4 linked regions of the Homo sapiens genome follow. The protein of the gene in region 1 purifies or fractionates together with the protein of each later gene. This does not show direct contact. Each region holds a gene or a part of one and is shown in the gene's direction. Other genes may lie near its edges.

Region 1 (7,000 bases):
CTTCTCAGCTTCCAGAACTATAAGAAATAAAGTTTTGTTGTTTAGAAGCCACCCAGTTCAGGCTGGCATGGTGGCTCATGCCTGTAATCACAGCACTTTGGGAGGGTAAGGTGGGAGGATCTCTTGAGGCCCAGAGTTCTAAACCAGACTAGGCAACATAGCAAGACTCTGTCTCTACAAAAAAAATTTTTAATTAGCTGGATGTGGTGGTGGTGCATGCCTATTGTCCCAGCTATTTGGGAGACTGAGGTGAGAGGACAGCTTGAGCCCAGGAATTCGAGGCTATAGTAAGCTACGATCATGCCACCACACTCCAGCCTAGGTGATAGAGTAAGACCCTGTCAAAAAAAAAAATGGAGTAAGACACCTGTTCTATGTATCTTGGTGAATCTTGAGTAAACCTTTCATTATAGCAAAAAGTTAAAAGGCAAGAGATATTTTGTTAGAGGACAGACTCCTGAGTCCTGATCTTGTCCTTTCTCTTTCCTTTAGTGAATTCTTACTCTTGTCCTGTTAATGACTTTGTAGCTTGCATAGCTTAAAATGAAGTGCTCTGTTAAATGTGTCTATGCATTTGAGAACTTCAGGGTGCAAGTCTTGCAGAGTTAACTCACAGAGCTTATGTCAGTTGCTTGACACAGTGATAGCAACCATAGCGATGGAAAGTGGTTGGCTGTAGTAACTATCAAGGTGGTTAAGAATGTGAACTCAGAGCCAGGATGCCTGCGTGTAAATATTAGCTCTGCCACTTATTAGTTGTGTGACCCTTAGCAGACCTCTTAATTCTCTGAGCCTCAGTTTTCTCACCTGTGTATTGGAATAATAACTTTAAGGAGTTGTTGTGATAATCCGTGAATGAATATTTGTAAAAGTCGTAGAACAATGCCTAGCACATAGAATTGCTACGTAAGTGTTAAAATAATAATAGTTAATACTTATGTAGCAATAGCTTTGTAATATGCAGAACTATCCCGTTTTACACATAGGGTTTTGTAAGTCACCCCATGATTACACAGCTAATTAGGATTCACAGTCAGCTCTGTCTAAGGATAAAGCCCATATTTCCACTAACCTACACAGCTCTCATATTTAAGTCATTCAACAGTACTTTTAGGAACCCCCTCTTTTATCTTGCTTTTTGATTCCCAGTCATTTCCTATTACTCCCTACCATACTATAACCATGGCAGACATGATTAATCAATCACTTTCTTTCTTTCTTTCTTTCTTATTTTCTTTCTTTCTTTCTTTTTCTTTCTTTCTTTCTTTCTTTCTTTCTTTCTTTCTTTCTTTCTTATCTTTCTTTTCTTTTCTTTTTTAACTGAATCTAGTGATGGCTTCAGATTTCTTCTCAATCTAGCAATCCCAACAGCCCATACCATAGCCAATCAGAGCTGGCATGTAAAATGAAACACAGGGGCACTGATTTTTGGAGTATTTTTCTGAAGAGCCTTTCCCACTTTGCTTTTTGTTCCAAGGCAGAGCAAATTCCCTTAGCCACTGCCAGGTCTCAAAACATTCTTTCCAGGTTTGGCCACATGCCTAAACTCTTTGGCATCTGGTAAAATGGCTCCCCATGCAAGGTCTTCAGGGGCTTATTTTTAAACTTACAGGCCTCTTCTCATGCCCAGAACAACTCTCTGTACTCTCCTTTTCTTCCTACTCACAGGCCCTAGAACCTCAACCTTCTTTTCTCCCCTCTTTGAAGATGCTACTGCCCAGTGCCTTGCCTGCCCTGCAGTGGCTCCCAGCTCCACCTCTCTGTCTGTCCTGAAGACAGGCCTGCAGGCAATTTCTTGTTAAAGGCTTGGCTATTTATTACCACAGAGAAACCACACACACGGAAGTCACTAGGGCTAGGAAAGCTCACAGAGGTGTAAGGGGCACAGTTCTGGGGCTCTTTGTTGTGACAGTAGCAGGAAGGCTGATGAGATGACCAGAGCCCTCTGCTTTTATTCCTGGAGTGGGATCATCAGCAGTTCCCCTCCTTCTGGCTGAGTCCTTTCTTTCTGGGGCTGAAGAGCAGAGCAACAAGAGCCTCTCGCCTTTTCTTTCTCTCTCCTGATTCTCATTGATTCAACACACATTTATTGAGTTCCCACCTTGGGGCAGGACAGGCAGATGGAAGTGAGGAAGCCACAGTCGCTGTCCTCAGTGGTCTGTCTGGTCCTTCTTTTAAAGATAGATATGCTGAAATATTTAGGGGGAGAAGTGTCATGATGTTTACAACTTCCAAAAATATATATGTACATATGAAGTTCAATTAAGTAAATATGTCAACATGTTAGCAACTGGTGGATCTGGTGAAAGGTATATGAGTATTTATTCTTCAGACTTTTCAGCGGTCTTGAAATGTTTCAAGCGAAAAAAAGAAAAAGGAAATCAAACAAAAAATTAAGGCTACTCAAGCTGCATTTGTGTTTCAAATGAACTTGATATGATTATCGAACAACAAAAAAGTTACTATGGCCGTTAGGCCAGTGATGGATTGAGGAAGGGCAGTGTACAGAAATTCTAAAGGCAGGAAGGCCAGGTGGGAGGTTATTGCAGAGGTGTAATTAGTAGGACTCGGTGATTGAAGGAGGAATTAGGAGGGAGAAGTTGAAGAGGAATCTGAGAACCCCAGAGAAGGAGTTTCTGTAGGGGAGGTGCTAATTTCAGTTGTGAATGTAGGGGCTTTGAGATACTTGTGCAGCACCCTGAGGAGACAGTTGCACATTCATCCCTTTGGTCCATAAATGTTTTCTGAGGGCTTATATTGCCAGGCACTTGTCTAGATGCTGGGTGTATGGCAATGAATGAAACAAAATTTCCTGCCTTCATGGGGCTTATAGTCTGTCATTTGGATGGCAGCCAGTACACCGGTGATGACGAGGCAGTCTGTTGGAAGATGGTAATTGCTGAGGGGATGCAATTTGTGCATTGTTGGGGTTAGAGGCTTTTGACTAAGAGACTGAGAGACATGAGGGGGCAAGCCATGTAGATATCTGGGAAGAGGATTCCAGGCAGCAGGAATAGCACGTGGCCAAGGCTCTGAGGCAGGAGGCTGTCTGGCAAGGAGGCCGGTGTGATCACGCGATACCTTATGGAAGGATGCTGTAATGACTTTGGTTTTTGCTCTGAGAGAGACAGGAAGGCCTTGGAAGGTTTTGAACAGAGCACAGCACAATGCGACTCCTATTTTCACAGGTTCATTCTGGCTGCTTTGTTGAAAATCAGCTGAAGGGAGACAAAGGCAGAATAATATAGTCAAAGGCTAATGTGCCAGGGTGGAGCCACAGAAGGTGGTAAAAATTCTGGATCTATTTTGAAAGTGGAACTGACAAGATTTGCTGTCAGTGCACATGGGAATAAGGAACAGAGAGGGGTTAAGGAAACACCAAGCTGATTTTTTTGTGGAGCAATTTAAAAAACGGAGTCACAGCCGGGCACAGTGGCTCACACCTGTAATCCCAGCACTTTGGGAGACCAAGGTGAGTGGATCACCTGAGGTCAGGAGTTCAAGAACAGCCTGGCCAGCATGGCGAAACTGCCTCTCTACTAAAAATACAAAAACTAGCTGGGCGTGGTGGTGCACACATGTAATCCCAGCTACTAGGGAGGCTGAGGCAGGAGAATTGCTCTAACCCAGGAGGCGGAGGTTGCAGTGAGCCAAGATTGTGCCACTGCATTCCAGCTTGAGAGACAGAACAAAACTCCATCTCAAAAATAAAAATAAAAACTAAATGGAGTCACCCGAACTGATTTGGGGAAGATTATGGGAAGGGCATGTTTCGGGGGAAATACCAGAAGCTCAGTTTTGGACACGTGGATTACTATAAGTGCAGATGCCAAATGGCATCTGGAGTCTGGAATCCATGTGAGATGGCTGGCCTGGAGATAGAAATTTGGGAGTTTTCAGCATATAAATTATATTTAAAGCCATGAGTCAGGATGAAGTCTCCTAAGGAGGGAGTTTAGAGAAAGAAGAGAAGAAATCGCTAAGGTGTTCCAACATTTAGATATTCAGGAGGTAGGAGCAACCAGTGAAAGAGACTGAGAATGAGCCATCAGAAAGGTGGAGGAAAAGCAGGTGAGCCGAGTCCCCCGGGCCACGTGCAGGAAGCATGTAAGGAGGAGAGAGCGGGCACATAGTCTGCATCTCACGCACCCATGCCTCAACCCTAGTGAGGAACAAGTCCTGTGGTGCAGTTCTTTGCATGCCGGGACCTTGTTAGCCAGAAGATGTTCTCTCAGACTCTGCCCCATTCCAGTTTCTCTTGGTTCCAGATCTCTGCCTTTTACTCTACCTCAAGCTTGTCCAACCCGTAGCCCACAGGCCACAGGCAGTGCTGGACAGCTTTGGATGCAGCCCAACACAAATTCATCAACTTTCTTAAAACATAATGAGATTTTTGTGTGTGTGTGATTTTTTTTGTTTAGCTCATCAGCTATGTTTCATGTTAGTGTATTTTATGTGTGGCCCAAGACAATTCTTCTTTCAGTGTGGTCCAGGGAAGCCAGAAGATAGGACACCCCACCCTACACATTCTTAAGCTGTCCAGCATCACTTCCTTGGTTCTCCAGTTCTCTATCCCTGACTTCCTATCAGTTTTCTACCTCTTTATAACTCTGATCCCTCTCTTAATTCCCCACAATCAGCTTATCCCCAGGACTTCAGTTCTGCAAAAATTTCTTGAGAACCTACTTAATCTACTGGAATGTCTTTGACTTCAAATACCAGAAACACTGATTTACGGCAGCTTAAACACATGGGTTGATTCTGTCACATAAGAAGTTTGGAGGAGGTAGGTATTGATGGCATTGATTCAGCAGTTCGATGACATAAGAGCTGACCATTCTGTGTAGCTCTTGACCTCTCCCTCATGGTCTCAAGGTGGCTGCCTAGCTCCAGCCATTATGGCCCCATGCAAGGCAGGAGGAAGGGGGAGTTGACACTTCATCCAGAAAGGAAAAGCTTTCTCAGATATTCCCAGTAGATTTCCACTTAAGTCTCTGTGCATCAGATCTATATTATGTGGCTACTACTAGCTGCAAAGAAGGCTGGTAAAATCTTTATTTGGATTTTCCTCTCTCTCATATGGAAACAGGCAAAGGAGAAAAGGATGGGAAGAGCTGTTGGATCAGCCAGCTATCAAGGCTGCCACACTACCAAGTGCCAAATGCTTGCCATGAACTGGAAATACAGAAATGATTAACGTAGTACCCGTCCTGTCCCTGGAGCTTGCGTTCTAGTAAGGAAACATAAGAATGAACGGAGTATCTTGGTTTGGTTTGGTGGAGACCAGGAGCCTTCCCTGACCCCCATGATCTGGTCAGGTGCCCCTCCTTGATGCTAAAACAATATCCCATGCTTACATCTACCAAGGCATCTAAGCACACTGTATTGCCATTATATATTTACTGGTGTCTTCCCCTCCCTTCCCCCAAATGTGGACTAACTGGGGACTTATCTTTGAATCTCTAGTGCCTGGGTGCCTGGTATATTCGTAGAGGTTGAGTAAATGTTTGTTGAATGAATCAAAGAAATGTCAAGGGAACCCCCTAATTACCTTCTTGTCCTGGGTTGGGCCCTTATCCCATCTTAGCTTTGTTGTTGTTGCTGTTGTTGTTGAGAAAGAGCCTTGCTTTGTCACCCAGGCTGGAGTGCAGTGGTGCGATCTGTGTTTACTGCAACCTCCGCCTCCCTGGTTCAAGCAATTCCCCTGTCTCAGCCTCCCAAGGAGCTGGGATCACAGGTGCGTGCCACCACATCCAACTAATTTTTTCTTTTTTGAGACAGAGTCTCTTTCTGTCGCCCAGGCTGGAGTGCAATGGTGCGATCTTGGCCGACTGCAACCTCTGTCTCGCAGGTTCAAGCGATTCTCCTACCTCAGCCTCCTGACTAGCTGGGATTACAGGCGCCTGTCACCACGCCCAGCTAATTTTTGTATTTTTAGTAGAGACAGCGTTTTACCATGTTGGCCAGGCTGGTCTCGAACTCCTGACCCCAGATGATCCACCCACCTCAGCCTCCCAAAGTGCTGGGATTACAGGGGTGAGCCACCACGCCTGGCCCCACACCCAGCTAATTTTTGTATTTTTAGTAGAGACGGGGTTTCACCATGTTGGCCAGGCTGGTCTCGAACTCCTGACCTCAAGTGATCTGCCCACCTAGGCCTCCCAAGGTGCTGGGATTACAGGCGTGAGCCACCGTGCCCAGCCCCTTAGCATTTTTAGCTAGTTAACTCATATTTACATTCTAATAGCAAAATCTCTAACACCTTGCCAGAAAACAGTGCTGACTCCCCAATCACTTTTGTAATGTTAAAAATAAATTTATTTATTCTCACATTCAGTAGAACTCTGAACTTACAAATTTACACCCAGTAAAGTCACAACACAGCATCTAAAAAGCTAAAAGTACCTATATACTCGAGTCTCATAGTACTTAGAAAATGGGATGCTTAATTTTTCAATTTGTTAGGCTGGGCGTGGTGGCTCACGCCTGTAATCCCAGCACTTTGGGAGGCTGAGGCGGGTGGATCACGAGGTCAGGAGTTCAAGACCAGCCTGGCCAAGATGCTGAAACCCCATCTCTACTAAATATGCAAAAATTAGTTGGGCATGGTGGCACGCGTCTGTAATCCCAGCTACTTTGGAGGCTGAGGCAGGAGAATCGCGTAAACCCGGGTGCCAGAGGTTACAGTGAGCCAAGATCAAGCGACTGCACTCCAGCCTGGGCGACAGAACAAGACTTCGTCCCAAAAGAAAAAAAACATTTTTTTTTCAATTTGTTGTTTTTTATTTCAAAGAGATGTATAGTTAATCTGACTCATTTGAATAACAGTGAGTGAATTGCAGATACTGTTATCAAAGATAGCAATTCTACAGGCATAAATAATTTTTTTATTATTATACTTTAAGTTCTAGGGTACATGTGCACAACGTGCAGGTTTGTTACATAGGTATACATGGGCCATGTTAGTTTGCTGCACCCATTAACTTGTCATTTACATTAG
Region 2 (5,224 bases), on another chromosome or scaffold:
ACGGTAAAACCCCATCTCTGCTAAAAATACAAAAAATTAGCCGGGCATGGTGGCACGTGCCTGTAGTCCCAGCTACTCTGGAGGCTGAGGCAGGAGAATGGTGTGAACCCGGGAGGCGGAGCTTGCATTGAGCAGAGATCGCGCCACTGCACTCCAGCCTGGGTGACAGAGTGAGACTCTGTCTCGAAAAAAAAAAAAAAAGTAGCCCTCTGGCCAGGCATGGTGGCTCACACCTCTAATCCCAACACTTTGGGAGGCTCAAGCAGGAAGATCACTTGAGGCCAGAGTTCAACACCAGCCTGGGCAACATAGTAAGACCCCATCTCTACAAAAAATTTAAAAATTAGCAAGGCATGGTAGCACATGCCTTGAGAGGCTAAGGCAGGAAGATCACTATGATTGTGCCACTGCACTCCAGCCTGGGCGACACAGCAAGACCCTGTCTCTGAAAATAAAGTGGGCCTCTGTCACATTCTTCCCTATCTTTCATAAGTAGCTACCCTCACCTCTTCTAGTTGTTGTCCCTGGTACTTATCTCCATATTTTCAAAGTTTAGGCTCTTGTCACTATTTCTTATTTTATCAGTTTTAGATCTTACTTATTGATCTCTGGCCATGGTAGAAGAGGATGTAGTTCTCACATAGAGCAAAATGACTCATATCTTCTAACCGAAAGGACCTACCAAATGTTCTGTACAATGAATGAAAAAAAAAAAAAAACAGTCAAAATAACCATTTTCAGAACACCAGAAATAAAGGCCCTAAAAGCTTCCAGAAAGGAAAATAAAACAGGTCTAACCTAAGTAAAGGATCAAGAATCAGATGGCATCAAAATTTATATAGTTATAAATGCCTCAGAGAATACTGTCAAGAAAGTGAAAAGACAAGGTGGACGTGGTAGCACATGCCTGTAGTCCCAGCTACGTGGGAAGCTTGAGGCAAAAGGAATTCCTTGAGACCAGGAGTTCACGGCTACAGTAAGCTATGATTATGCCTGCAAATAGCCTGGGCACCATGAGACCCTATCTCTAAATAAATTAATTAAATGAAATAGAAAGTGAAAAGGCAGCTCACAGAATGGGAGAAAATATTTGTAAATCCTATATCCGAAAAGTGTCTAGAATTCAGAATACATAAAGAACTATTACAACTCAACAAAAAGACAACTCATTTTAAAAAGGGGCAAAGCAATAGAACTTTCTCCAAAGAGGATAAACAAATGGCCAATAAGCATGTGAAAAGATGCTCAACATCGTTGGGCATTAGGGAAATGCAAATCAAAACCACAATGAGATACCACTTCAGCACCATCTAGGGTATCTGTAATAAAAAAATTAAAAAAAAAGGAAATGTCAAGTGTTGGCTAGGATGTGGAGAAATTGGAACCCTCATACGTTGCTGGTGGAATGTAAAATGGTGCAGCTGCTTTGGAAAACAGTCTGGCAGTTCCTTAAACAGTTAAACATAGAATTACCATAGAATCCAGTAATTCTACTCCTAGGTATGTACTCAAGGGAAATGAAAACATAGACAAAAGCTTGTATACAACTGTTCATATGAGCATTATTTCTAATATCCAAAAGTAGAAACCACCAAAATGCTCATCAGCTGATGAATGGAAAAACAAAGTGTGGTATTTTATACAATGAAAAGTATTCAACCATTACAAGGAAGGAAATACTAACATGTGCCGCAACGTAGATGAATCTTGAAAACATGCTGAGTGAAAAAAGCCAGACACAAAAGTCCACTTTTATATCATTCAGTTTTTATGAAATATTCAGAAGAGGCAACTCCATAGAAACAAAGATTTCCAATATTTTCTTTGTGCTTTAATATGGCCCTTTCTCTCTCTCTCTCTCCCCTTTCTCTTTCTCCCTCCCTCCACACATACATATATACACATATATGTAAATGTACATACACACACACACACACACACACACACACACACAGTCATCTTGGTATCCACAGGGGATTGGTTCCAGGACTCCCTGTGGATACCAAATCTGCAGATGCTCAAGTCCCTTATATAAAATGGTGTAATATTTGTATAGAACCTACATATATTCTGTGTATTTTAAATCTTCTGTAAATTACAGTACCTAACATAATGTAAATTCTATGTAAATAAGTATTATACTGTATTGATGAGGGAATAATGACAAGAAAAAAATCTGTATCTGTCCAGTACAGATGCAACCATCTATTTTTAAATTTTTTAAATATTTTCATTCTGTGGTTGGTTGAATCCTTGGATGTGGAATCTGTGGATGTGGAAGACCAGCTGTATATTTTGAGGATATTTGATGGAGTGTACATCTGTGCTCAGGAAACATATGTAGTTATTAAATCAGGAAAAGCTATTGATAAATTTTCCATTTGATAGATGTACAACCTCTTAGTCATTTTGTTAGAGTATCAAAAAATATTTTCATGTTGTATGTCAAAATAAACTTAATAAGTGATACTTTTTTTCTTTTTAGACCTTAACTGATGTAAGAAATCTCAAATTTCCACCATTATTTACTCAGAAATATCCTTGTGAGGTATGTGTAATTCTCATCTTTTATCTTCTTTAGAATCATCTTTAGAACGTAAGCGGTCCTTAGCAGTCGACTCAGTTTCCCCTATTTTACAGATGAGGAAGCCAAAGGTCTAGAGAGGAAAGAGACCTGCTCCCAAGAGCCCAGAATTTGTTAAAACCAAACACTGGAGCTGGGGCCTGGCTCCTTCAGCCTAATGTCCAGTGTTCCACACTGTAGCACCTGTGAAATTTATATATTGATAAATCTTGAATTTCCTTAAGTAATTAAGTTGAAGTGAGTTAGTATGTGTTCATTTTCAAATTGGAAAAAGTCAAAATTTATCTTTCAGTATTATAATGAAGGGTTGCATTAAAAAATGGACTTTATAACAATATATTAATACCTACATATACTTAAGTCTGTTTTACTAAAAATTGTCATCATGTATTTTGCAAACTTGATGAATCTATTCCCAGGGTGGCTCATAAGAGTACATGTTACGTTCAAAGAGATTTTTAAAAACCAAGAAAAGGTGTTGGTTGCTGATCTCTGCCATAATTTTTTCTAATTAAAATTTCTATTGAGATAATTGTAGATTTACATGCAATTATAAGATGATTTTTAAAAATCATATTTATGTTTCAGGGATGTGATTAAATAATCCTTTATAATGTGTTAGAAAATCAAATTACCCAAAAATTGTCCATGTTTTTTTGGAATGAGGGTTGGCAAACTAGTGCCCACAGGTCAAATCCAGCCTGCCACCTATTTTTATAATAAAGTTCTATTGGAACACAGCCATGCCCATTAATTTACAAATTGTCTCTGGATGCTTTTGTGCATTGACGGCAGAGCTGAGTAGTTGTATCAGAGACTTGAAAACTCGAATATGGCTCAAAAGCTTAAAATATGTACAGAAATATTTTGCCAGCACTGATTTTAAAAACTGTACAGTGATCAAACCTGGCCGTTTTATCACAAAACAATTTTTATATTTTCAGTACGTGATGGTTCAAGACATGCTCTCTCCATCCCCCATGGAACGACCTGAAGCTATAAACATCATTGAAAATGCTGTATTTGAGGACTTGGACTTTCCAGGAAAAACAGTGCTCAGACAGAGGTCTCGCTCCTTGAGTTCATCGGGAACAAAACATTCAAGACAGTCCAACAACTCCCATAGCCCTTTGCCAAGCAATTAGCCTTAAGTTGTGCTAGCAACCCTAATAGGTGATGCAGATAATAGCCTACTTCTTAGAATATGCCTGTCCAAAATTGCAGACTTGAAAAGTTTGTTCTTCGCTCAATTTTTTTGTGGACTACTTTTTTTATATCAAATTTAAGCTGGATTTGGGGGCATAACCTAATTTGAGCCAACTCCTGAGTTTTGCTATACTTAAGGAAAGGGCTATCTTTGTTCTTTGTTAGTCTCTTGAAACTGGCTGCTGGCCAAGCTTTATAGCCCTCACCATTTGCCTAAGGAGGTAGCAGCAATCCCTAATATATATATATAGTGAGAACTAAAATGGATATATTTTTATAATGCAGAAGAAGGAAAGTCCCCCTGTGTGGTAACTGTATTGTTCTAGAAATATGCTTTCTAGAGATATGATGATTTTGAAACTGATTTCTAGAAAAAGCTGACTCCATTTTTGTCCCTGGCGGGTAAATTAGGAATCTGCACTATTTTGGAGGACAAGTAGCACAAACTGTATAACGGTTTATGTCCGTAGTTTTATAGTCCTATTTGTAGCATTCAATAGCTTTATTCCTTAGATGGTTCTAGGGTGGGTTTACAGCTTTTTGTACTTTTACCTCCAATAAAGGGAAAATGAAGCTTTTTATGTAAATTGGTTGAAAGGTCTAGTTTTGGGAGGAAAAAAGCCGTAGTAAGAAATGGATCATATATATTACAACTAACTTCTTCAACTATGGACTTTTTAAGCCTAATGAAATCTTAAGTGTCTTATATGTAATCCTGTAGGTTGGTACTTCCCCCAAACTGATTATAGGTAACAGTTTAATCATCTCACTTGCTAACATGTTTTTATTTTTCACTGTAAATATGTTTATGTTTTATTTATAAAAATTCTGAAATCAATCCATTTGGGTTGGTGGTGTACAGAACACACTTAAGTGTGTTAACTTGTGACTTCTTTCAAGTCTAAATGATTTAATAAAACTTTTTTTAAATTAAGTATGTTGACTCTTATTTTGAGGAGTTAGTCCCAAAATGGTAGATTTTCTAATTTATAAAATGGGATCATAGATCTAGGAAGAGTCATAAACCTATCCTCAAAAAAACTTCTTCCTAACCCATTTCAGACAGGTATCTTTTTCATCATTTCCCAAAGACTTGGCAGGCCCTTTCAAAATTCACAAGATCCATAATTGACAGACATTTGCCCAGTACCTACCCTGTGCCAAGGACTGAGAATATAGAGGACTTTCCCCTAAAGGGAGAGCTCTCAGAGAAAAGGGCTGTGGTGATGCTAGTTGTATTGATACCGAGGTGTATCTGACATGTGCCACATCGAGGCATGTGGCAGGCTGGGCTGATGGGGCATGAACCAGCTAGACACAATCTAGAAAGGTCAAAATGCATAGCATCTCCATATTACAAACAAATAATGTCTGCCACGCAAGGTTATGAGCAACTTGTACGCTGGAAAAACACTTCCCAGATCTTTGTGGCTG
Region 3 (7,762 bases), about 27 Mb from region 1:
GAGGTCAGGAGTTCGAGACCAGCCTAGCCAACATGGTGAAACCCCTGTCTCTACTAAAAATAAAAAAATTAGCTGGGCGTGGTGGCACGTGCCTGTAGTCCCAGCTACTCGGGAGGGTGAGGCAGGAGAATTGCTTGAACCTGGGAGGCGGAGGTTGCAGTGAGCTGAGATCATGCCACTGCACTCCAGCCAGGGCGACAGAGAATCCCTGTCTAAAAAAAAAAAAAAAAAAAAATCTTAATTATTAGCCTGAAGTTTTTGGGGACCACCCAGCTAGTATGAATTCAAGCTACGTTTTTGTGTGAGAATTGGATTGCAGTTCCAAATTCTCAGATACGATTTTGCTTTTCCCCTGTCCACCAGGTGCCAAGGTTTAAGACGGCTAATTTTCTTTGTAGATTCTGGGGGATGGGTGCCTATGCTAGTAAGCAGCAAGTTTATTTCTAGTATATCCTTACATCAAATTAATAATCCTTGGAATTGCAGTTGTTTGTGTGTGTGTGTGTGTGTGTGTGTGTGTGTGTGTGTGTATAATGCAGGTAATGGGTTTTGTGTCTTTCTTACAAGGTCACGAAAACCAATGCTCCTAGTAACTGGGTTTAGCACATGCCCTTGAGATAAAAGTTGGCTGACTCTGCTAAACTCTAGGTTCCTGCCTTCATTTAGTTTTTTAACTTAATAATTTCTTACCCTATTGTCAGTTAATCAATATATTTAATAAGATTTAAAAAATGTTTTTTCCAGGGATTTTGTTTTCAGTGTGACAAGTGTGAACTAGTCCTTGATATTTCTAGAAACAGAATCCTATATTCTCTTTATACTTTACTATCCAAATTTTCCTCAAGGGATATTTAAGACAAATAATACTAAACAGAAATATTTAAAATCAGTATGTAAATATCTTACATGCAAACATTTTGCATGCAAATTTACAGATTTTATAAAGACTGCTTCTTAACATAAATTTTAGGTGGATATTTACCAAATAGCTGGTTGACTAGTTTGTAGATGTCTGTTATTTATTTTATTAAATAGACAAATATTATTGTTCCACAGTACATTTAGCCTTTGACTCATGAGTTTGTTGGCTCAAATTCACTTTAGATGATTTGCAAGATTATGCTACGCAACAAACAATCTCAAAAATATTTGTGATTCACAACAACAAATATTTTTGTTTTACTCTTGTTTCACATCAGTAGCCGTATGTCAGGAGCTGCAAGTCAGTTGCTTCAGTTCTGTACAGGGTGAGAGTTTCAGGTCTGCTCCATCTATTTTCTTATTCTGAGATCTTATCTGGAACATACCTTTCTCATGGCAGGTGGCACAAGAGTAAGAGATTGACCTGAATTTTGCAATCAAATTTAAAGCCTCTGCTTTGATTTAGCATTTAACATCTGCTCACAAAGCACTGGCTAAAGCAAATCACATGACCAACAAGAATACAAGTCTTCAAAGCTGTGTTGAATACCTTATTTATGGCTGAGGTTGCTCTTAATCTAAATTCTCTTCCAGAAAATGAGGATTTTAGTCTAGAATCCTGATTAGTAATTGTCAGCAACATAATTGTCTAATGGGATAAGCCAAATGGAAAAAAGCAAACAACCTCAAGCAACATCTCTGTCATTCTAGGTCAGGGTTGAAATATACTGTGGGAAAGGCTGTCAAGCCTGTCAGTGCTTAAACTAATTTGGAAAGAACTTCCCATTCTTAGAAATGTATAATTAATAAAGCAGTAGGCAAAAGAGATGAATTCTCATTGGAGTTAAAATCGGATCGTTATAATAAAAAAGCTTTATTTCAAAATGTCATTCTTAAAATCATTGTAAGAGTAGCAAACTTGCAGGGCATCTCTGGGAGTTACTGAATATTTTTCAGTTACAGTGCAGGATCACATATTAGTTTCTGTTTATGTTGTCATTACATTGAAAATGCTAGATTGAATTATCATTCCTGGAATCACAATATCAGATTTGAAAGGATCTGAAAAAATGATTTTTCAACTGTAGTGGATTAATATATTTTTGTGTTGCAATCAGTTGTTAAGTATGTCAAAATCATTAGTTATTCATGACAAGTAACTATTATACTAGTGATAATCAAAGTAGAGAAGATTGTGAAAGATATACTTACATTTGTTTTGCAATATCTTCACTTTCAATTACTTGCATTAGGACTTTCTTTTTTTTGAGTGGAGCTGAAAGAAGTTAAACGTAGGCTGTCAGTAATTTGCATAATCCTGAGTATACCGTGTCTGTTTGTTTCCAATGTGATTGCCATCCACCGGGAAAAAAAAAAGGTGGTTTAGTATCATTTCTCAAACAGCATGTGGTCCTACTTGATTGGAACTTGAAATGCAGGGAGTAATTTATCTAGTCATACATCTCATTAGCTAAGTCTGTAACCTAGGCTTCCTTGCTTCCAGTACATTGCTTTTTCCAACAAATGATCAAATTTTCAAAAGCCAATGTATGAAATTGGGGCTGAGGCAGAAGAGAATTAGGCAAGGCAATTTGCCACCTTTTTCTAATCTTTAGTCTCAGTTTCCAAAGTAAAATAAAAGTACCAGAAAAACGGGGTCCAGATGGTGTATTTTGCATATTATCTATGCTCTAGGAACATTCTTTTCCAAATCTATTTGATTGCAACTCACAGTAAGAAATTGTTTAAATCACAACATAGGACATACTCTCACCTTCCACCATATTTGAAACAAAAAGTTTCAGGAAGCAATTTTTGCCCTTACTAGACATTATGCACTCTGGTATTTTATATTGTATTACATCCTAGCCTATTTCATATAAAAATGAAATTGATTTTTGAGTTGCAGGTTGAAAAACATGCCTCTAGAAAACAGGAGACAAGTTAATCTGTTAACAAACTCCAAAGTTACTAGCTTTGCTGAAATAATGTCACAGAATAATAAACTTCCTTCACATTTATTTGTACTACAGTCTCTCAGGCTTCAGAACAGAACCTGGTAGAATCTTTTCCTCTTTGGAACACCAGTTCATGACAATATCTCAGAGATTCTAAGACTCGTTGTTTCCCAGTTCATGACAATATCTCAGAGATTCTAAGACTCGTTGTTTCCCAGTTCATGACAATATCTCAGAGATTCTAAGACTCGTTGTTTCTGACATGTTTACATCTCTGAATTCAAGATGTGTCTCAGGCCGGGCGCGGTGGCTCATGCCTGTAATCCCAGCATTTTGGGAGGTCGAGGCGGGTGAATCATTTGAGGTCACGAGTTCAACACCAGCCTTGCCAAAATGGTGAAACCTCCTCTCTACTAAAAATACAAAAATTAGCTGGGCATGGTGGCGCATGCCTGTAATCTCAGCTCCTTGGGAGGCTAAGGGAGGAGAATCGCTTGAACCGGGAGGCGGAAATTGCAGTGGGCCGAGATTGCGCCTCTGCACTCCAGTCTGGGAGACAGAGTGAGACCCTGTCTCAAAAAAAAAAGGAAAAAGATGTGGCTTAAAGGTGCCTTACATATCAGCGGTATGGCATAGTTTCATTGGCAGCCTTTGTTTTCTTTCTTGGGTAACATAAAACAATGTAAGTCTATGATTTTTTTAGAGCTGCTATGAAATATATTAATAATAATTATATAGGCCAAACTCTATTGCTTATTCATTTCAATGTATCCAGCTTATCAGAATGCCTTCTGATTTCTTGTTAAGAAAATGTAATGAGATGAGAATAGCTTAAGAAAAAAATCCTTAGTTCTGGGCTACAAGGGAAAATGAGTTATGACCCCAATTTAATTATTACAGAAAGCTTTCTCATTTGCCTTCATTGTGATCAGGGTTTGAGTATGATCTTTATTCTACCTCCCTTACTTCTGTATAGTTAGGATTTCATTAGGCGGCTAGAGGGTTCTTCGGATCATGGCTAAAAAAGAAAGCAAAAGGTTAAGTCCTAGAGTTAAGGAATTAGGAAAAAAAAATTAAGGCATTAGAAAAAAAATCAAGAATTAGGCTTTATTTTAAAAAATGGAACAAACTGTCAAATTCCTGCGTACCCGTTTAAACTGTCACCAACCTAACACACTGTAAAACTTAATGACTGTAAAACTGGCAGCAGGATCCTGAACATAACAAGGAACAAAAATAAGTTTGCTAGGCTGTTTTCATCCCAGCATGATTGAAATACACCGTTTCCTCAAAAAAAAAAAAACCTCTAATGAGGAAAGCAGTAAATTAAATGCCACGGTTAATGTGCCACTAGAAATAGGAACAAGTAGTTTAGTTACCGAATGCTTCTTAGGCCATACACTCTACACCACGATGCGTTCTTTTTTCTGTTTCGCTAAAGCTTTCACCAAGCCTAAGGCTGGAGAGGGGTCCTAACTGAGCCCTGACCAGACCAGGGAGCCCTACTGTGCAATCTCCTCAGGTTAGGAAGGGCCCAGTATGACCGGCCCAGAAGGCCTGGCCGATCAACAGGCGCTGGGCCGACGGTGGTGGGCTCGCTTCCTGAGGCTGCCCTTGGGCATGCGGAAGGGGACTGGCTGGCGATAACACCCTGGCGAAGCAAGGTGGACAGTGACTCCCGCCCGGTTCGAGCCCGCCTAGCAGGGGAAGCAACTCCACCACCGCCTCCGCGCACCGTCACGTGACGGGAAGAGGGCGTGGCCGAAGCCCGTGATCCGGGGGGCGGGCGGGGCAGGGGGAGGGCACTAGAATGTGAAGGATCTTCGCGGTTCTGGGTGCCCAGAAAGGCGGCGACGCGGCGGATGACAACATTAGGCCGCGACGCGCTCCTGGCCAGGCGGCGGCTGTAGTGTTAGCTTTGGACGCCGCAGTAGCCGCTGCCGGTAGCAAGCCGACTGAGGGAAGGTGGGGGTCCGCCCGGGCTGGTGGACCTCGGGGCCGAAAGTTCCCGCCCCGCTCGGGGGCTGAGCCGGCAGTGCCTCCGCGGCCGCTGGGCAGCGCCCTTCGTCCAGGCTCGCGCCCCAGCTGCCGCCGACGACAGCGGCCGAGAGAAGTTGGGGTCTGACTAGACGCTTACGGGGCCTCGGACCCCGGCGCCGCGGCGACCTCGGAGGAACCGGCTCCTTGCGTCCCGCCTCCCTGGGAGCTCCGCACGGGTGAGTGTTGCTCCATTCCTGAGGTTGGGGTGCTGGGTTCGCACCCCTCAGGGCGACTGCGCACCCTTATTGCCACGTTCTGAGCTCGGGCTGTCGGGGACTCCTGGCCACCCCCGCCGAGGAGTTCTTTGGCTCCTTTGTTCCCTTTTGGAGTAGGGGGATTGGAAAGGCTGGCAGGGTGGAGTGTTTAGGGGCCCACAGTAGGTGCATCTGCAGCCTTACAAAAGCCGCGGCAGGGGAACGGGGGTGGGAGGCTGTTGGAGCATTTCGACCGCCCCGGGTGTCTGTCCCTCCTGAAGTTTGATAGGTTGATGGCATGGGCCTCGTTGGGAGCCCCCGCGCCCAGGAGAGCTGGCGCTTTGTCGCTCGGTGCGGTTAAGGCGAGGCTCCTTCTTTCCTGTGACAGCCCCAGAGAAGGCTGTGCCGCGCACCGCAGACCGCACCCGCCTTTGCAGAGCCAAGCGACACGGTGTTGTTCCTCTAAGCCTCAGTTCTCCCGGCCTTCTTGTAACGTAGGAGGAAAGCCAAGCCTTTGCTGTGCTTTTAAATTTAATGTTTGTTTCTAAGCCCTCTCTCAAGAGTGGAATCAGGTTCCAAGGAGCTTCACAGGCAGCATGCTTTAGGTTCATTGAACCACCCACTCAAGACTGGCTGAGGCGAAGCAACAGTATATGCAGATTTTCCATTCACAAAAGTCATTTAACACTCTTCTTTATGAGACACATCTGCGTTGCAGAACGTAACCTAATTTCATTTTATTTAAATGCTTTCTGAAATAATAGGTAACTTGGACAACGTAAACAGATGGGTAAACTTTAACTGATAATGTAAGTATATATGCATTAAATAAAAAATTTAATGATGTTTTTGCCTTTCTGCTGCTAGAAGACTTAAATGACGTCTGAGTAGTAATACAGTGTCTCCTGCATGGCAGTTAAGTTTTTCCCAAAATTAGTGCTGCTTTTGAAATAATCCTTTAAAACAGTTTTTGCCTCCCTTCGTATCTAGAGAGAGCAAGAATTGTGGAGAATCGTGGGTGAATTGATTGTTAAATTTTGCTAATTTCCTAGAGTTTCATCTAAACTTGATTTTGCTGAGAGGCTATGATCAGTTTCTATGCTTGCTAGAACCTGTTTTGCAGTGAAATTATTAAGATCATGCTAGTTTTATAAAATAGGTTGGAATAGGAAAAGTAAGGCCATGCAATTTAAAACTGTTCTCTATAAAAGTACAACTAATTTCAAATGTTTGTTACTTTTATTTTTTTTTAATATTAACCGTGTATGGAGTGACTATAATATACCTGCTCAAAGGGCTGAGAAAGGAAATAGATGAAACTTAAGCTACCTTTTGGGTCTTTAATTATGGACATCAAGTTATTGCGGTCACATTCCATGTCAACCGTTTGAACAGCAATACCGTGTACACAGGTGCTTAGAAATGCCTGTTTAATTAAAAATGGCCATGGTTTATTTCTCTTTGATTGAATCATAATAGTTATTGAATCTCTGATCTGTGGAAAGATGCTACTGTATTTTCCTTAGAATGTTACTGCATTTTAAAGACAGTCAAATATGTTTTTTATAACACATTCAGGGTACTTATACATTTGTCAATATTCAGTTCCTTGGTTCATTTAAAAATTGGAAGCCTTAGAAAACACTTTGGGGATAAATTTACAATTGTGTATAATGAATTTATGTTTTAGTTTGCTTTAAGAAAAATGATGAAATTATGAATTTGTAAAATATGCATTACAAAAGGATTTTTTTTTTTTTTTTTTTTAAGACTGTCTCACTCTGTATCCCAGGCTGGAGTGCAGTGGTGCAACTTGGCTCACTGCAGCTTCTGCCACCTGGGTTCAAGAGATTCTTATGCTTCAGCCTCCTGAGTAGCTGGGATTACAGGTGCGTGCCACCATGCCAGGCTAATTTTTGTATTTTTATTAGAGATGGGGTTTCACCATGTTGGCCAGGCTGGTCTCCAACTCCTGGCCTCAAGATCCGCCCGCCTCAGCCTCCCAAAGTGCTGGGATTACAGTCATGAGCCACTGTGTCTGGCGGATCTTTTGTTTAAAAGTATGAATTGCAGAATTTTAACCAGTGTTAGTACATTTCAACTTGGCTTTGGTTTGTAAATAATCCTTCAAAAGTAGATTACTTGAATTAAGGCATTAAAGACAAAGAATTGATACAGTACATAGATCTAGTTTTCTAATATTAATTTGGAAAACTTTTATCCTAATATTATCCTAATAACAATGCCTGAAATGTCATGTTGTAATGTTTGTATTATATTGAAAGTTAAAAACATTTATAGCAATGTTCTTGGAGCATCAGGCAATTCAAAGAGGACATAGGTCCTGCCTTAATCTTACAAATAATGACCTGCAAATAAGACAGAAACACAACTTGAATAAAAAAGCCTTTGAGAGGCCAGGCCCGGTGGCTCACGCCTGTAATGCTAGCACTTTGGGAGGCTGAGGTGGGCAGATCATGAGGTCAGAAGTTCAAGACCCGCCTGGCCAACATGGTGAAACCCCGTCTCTACTAAAAATACAAAAAAATTAGCTGGGCGTGGCAGTGTGTGCCTGTAATCCCAGCTACTTGGGAGGCTGAGGCAGGAGAATCGCATGAACCCAGGAGACAGAGATTGCAACGAGCCAAG
Region 4 (2,951 bases), on another chromosome or scaffold:
CTGTGGTTCTGTGAGTAAGACAGTTTTTTTTTGGAGACAGGATCTCACTTTGGCACCCAGGCTGGAGTGCAGTGGCATGATCTTGGCTCATTGCAGCCTTGACCACCTGAGCTCAAGCAATCCTCCCACCTCATCCCTGCCAAGTAGCTAGAACTACAGGCACACACCACCATGCCTGGCTAATTTTTTTGTAGAGACAGGGTTTCACTGTGTTGCCCAGGCTGGTCTCCAACTCCTGAGCTCAAGTGCGCCTCCTGCCTCAGCCTCCCAAAATGCTAGGATTACAGGCATAAGCCACCGAGCCCAGCCTAGTAAGGCAGTTTAATGCTATGTGCAAAAATCGTAACATGGTGCAGTTAACGCATTCCAATCAACCCCTGAACACGTACCTGTGATTCATCTCTTAATGTTCACTGACCAAACCTGTAACTTCAGCATACCCATGAGACAAACTGTTTTAAAATTTTGCTTTCAGGATTTCCAGTAGCAAGTGATATATAAAGATATTAGGTAGGTATTTAACAGTTATCACATCCAGGCCTGGCACGGTGGCTCACGCCTGTAATCCCAGCACTTTGGGAGGCCGAGGCGGGCGGATCACAAGGTCAGGAGATCGAGACCATCCTGGCTAACATCATCTCTACTAAAAATACAAAAATTAGCCGGGCGTGGTGGCGGGCACCTGTAGTCCCAGCTATTTGGGAGGCTGAGGCAGGAGAATGGCGTGATCCCAGGAGGCAGAGCTTGCAGTGAGCCGAGATCCGCCATTACACTCCGGCCTGGGCGACAGAGGGAGACTCCATCCCAAAAAACAACAACAACAACAAAAAAAAAAGTTGTCACATCCAAATTTTGAATTCAGGGACTTTATTTTCTTTGAACCCCCACAGCCAGCTTGTTTGGAGGCATCGGAATGCAGAACTGTTGCAGTTCAGTTGAAAGCAATGCCATCTAGTGGTGTGTGTACAGCAGGTCAAATGTTAAGCGTAGATTTTCTAGTAGAAAGTAAATTATCTTTAGGTCTTGCTAAAAAACATTATGTTTCAAGTTTGCCTCTTTTAACTGCTAAAAAGGGCAGCTACTAAAAACTAGGACTCAAAAACCTATTTTTAGTTCTTCCATCAAAATCTTACAAATAGAAGAGCTTCAGTATGCAAAGTATTTCTTGCAGTTAAATTTGTACATTACAAAATGTCTCTGGACGGATTCACAAGAAACTGATAATGTTGGTGGCTGCCTTTGGGGAGAGGACTGAGGAGCAGGATTTTTCACTGTATAGCTATAGAATTTTTATGTGTATGACCGTATTAAATTGTTTAAATACATGTTACTGAAATTTTTCTTACATAGGTCATGAATGAAAAACTTCAGCACTGCATGGAACTAACAGATCTAATGCGGAATCACCTGAATGAGAAGAGGGCACTCCGCTTGGAGTGGATGATTGTCATCCTCATTACCATAGAGGTAAGATGGAAATGCTCTGTACTATGATCAGTTACCATCTTTTCACAAATACAGGGGCTATGCTAATAAGATAGTTTGAGATAGAAAATTATTAGCAGAAAAGAGGCTGACTTTGTTATCATTACTAACTCTATTTGGAAGTTTCAAATTACTATTTGCAAATGCATTAAAAGTAATTCTTGAAAAGGTTCCACTTTTTAAAATTTGAGAGTAGACCTCAAGGTTCTGCTTTTAAAGACAGCATTTGGAAAAAGTTCTAGCTGTAAATTTATAATGTACAGCTCAACATCAAATCAAGCACCCGTACCTCCAATTCATAGGTTGCCACGTGAGAAAGGGCAAACATTTACCTTACTTCAGGAGCATTTCTCATTAATCACAATCTTGGAAGTCATTTTAGTTTGTACCCATAATTTGCCCGTCATGAAATAATTCTCACTTTCTATTCTAAGGTAATGTTTGAGCTGGGACGAGTATTTTTCTGATCAAGTGATAACCAAAGTGTCACTGCAAGAGATATTCAAGTTCTACAATCAAAAATTAAATGTTCGGCCCGGCGCGGTGCCTCATGCCTGTAATCCCAGCACTTTCGGAGGCCAAGAAGGGTGGCTTGAGATGAGATCAGGAGCTCAAGACAAGCCTGGCCAACATGGTGAAACCCCATCTCTACTAAAAATACCAAAATTAGCCAGGTGTGTTGGCACACGCCCGTCATCTCAGCTACTCAGGAGGCTGAGGCAGGAGAATCTCTTGAACTTGGGAGGCGGAGGTTGCAGTGAGCTAAGATCACACCACTGCACTCCAGCCAGGGCAACAGTGAGACTCAGTCTCAAAAATAAACAATAAAATAAATAAATAAATGTTCACTACTGGGTGATCATTTAATAGGTGTTTTTTTAATCAAGAAATTATCTTTTTCAGCCCAGTATATCGTGTGAATAAAATTATGAAGAATCTAGTGTTTGTATCTACATCACTGACAATTCAAAAGGTAAATATTTCAGTTAAGAACTTTGGAAAACTAGCATCTAGGAAATCTTGGCAAATCTTGGCAGATACTTCTTAAAGTCACAGGACTTAGGTTTTAGACACCACAACTTAACCTATCCCCAGGGAATCCCATCATGGCCCTGGCTAAGAGAATCATACAGGAACTGAAGTGTTTAAATCAATATATACAGGCCGGGCGCGGTGGCTCACGCCTGTAATCCCACTTTGGGAGGCCGAGGCGAGTGGATCACAAGGTCAGGAGATCGAGACCATCCTGGCTAACATTACACGGTGAAATCCCGTCTCTACTAAAAATACAAAAAATTAGCTGGGTGTGGTGGCAGGCGCCTGCAGTCCCAGCTACTCAGGAGGCTGAGGCAGGAGAATGGCATGAACCCGGGAGGCGGAGCTTGCAGTGAGCTGAGATCATGCCACTGCACTCCAGCCTGGGCATCAGAGAAAGACTCCCGTCTCAAAAAAAAAAAAAAAAAAAA

What was found.
Region 2: the proteins of GLT8D2 (region 1) and EIF2AK3 purify together in Homo sapiens (affinity purification with mass spectrometry; 3 studies listed by BioGRID and IntAct, with this or other methods). This does not show direct contact.
Region 3: the proteins of GLT8D2 (region 1) and OSBPL8 purify together in Homo sapiens (affinity purification with mass spectrometry; 3 studies listed by BioGRID and IntAct, with this or other methods). This does not show direct contact.
Region 4: the proteins of GLT8D2 (region 1) and RMND1 purify together in Homo sapiens (affinity purification with mass spectrometry; 3 studies listed by BioGRID and IntAct, with this or other methods). This does not show direct contact.

The regions. Positions count from the first base shown.
Region 1 is NC_000012.12:104,040,188-104,047,187, reverse strand, and holds part of GLT8D2 (glycosyltransferase 8 domain-containing protein 2), read left to right. Parts: intron 1-7,000.
Region 2 is NC_000002.12:88,556,241-88,561,464, reverse strand, and holds the end of EIF2AK3 (eukaryotic translation initiation factor 2-alpha kinase 3 isoform 1 precursor), read left to right. Parts: intron 1-2,485; coding exon 2,486-2,548; intron 2,549-3,528; coding exon 3,529-3,729; 3' UTR 3,730-4,724; downstream 4,725-5,224. UniProt on the Homo sapiens protein: Metabolic-stress sensing protein kinase that phosphorylates the alpha subunit of eukaryotic translation initiation factor 2 (EIF2S1/eIF-2-alpha) in response to various stress, such as unfolded protein response (UPR).
Region 3 is NC_000012.12:76,556,730-76,564,491, reverse strand, and holds the start of OSBPL8 (oxysterol-binding protein-related protein 8), read left to right. Parts: upstream 1-4,720; 5' UTR 4,721-5,095; intron 5,096-5,483; exon of another isoform or gene 5,484-5,920; coding exon of another isoform or gene 5,921-5,922; intron 5,923-7,762. UniProt on the Homo sapiens protein: Lipid transporter involved in lipid countertransport between the endoplasmic reticulum and the plasma membrane: specifically exchanges phosphatidylserine with phosphatidylinositol 4-phosphate (PI4P), delivering phosphatidylserine to the plasma membrane in exchange for PI4P, which is degraded by the SAC1/SACM1L phosphatase in the endoplasmic reticulum.
Region 4 is NC_000006.12:151,404,236-151,407,186, reverse strand, and holds the end of RMND1 (required for meiotic nuclear division protein 1 homolog), read left to right. Parts: intron 1-1,350; coding exon 1,351-1,467; intron 1,468-1,919; coding exon 1,920-1,952; 3' UTR 1,953-2,425; downstream 2,426-2,951. UniProt on the Homo sapiens protein: Required for mitochondrial translation, possibly by coordinating the assembly or maintenance of the mitochondrial ribosome.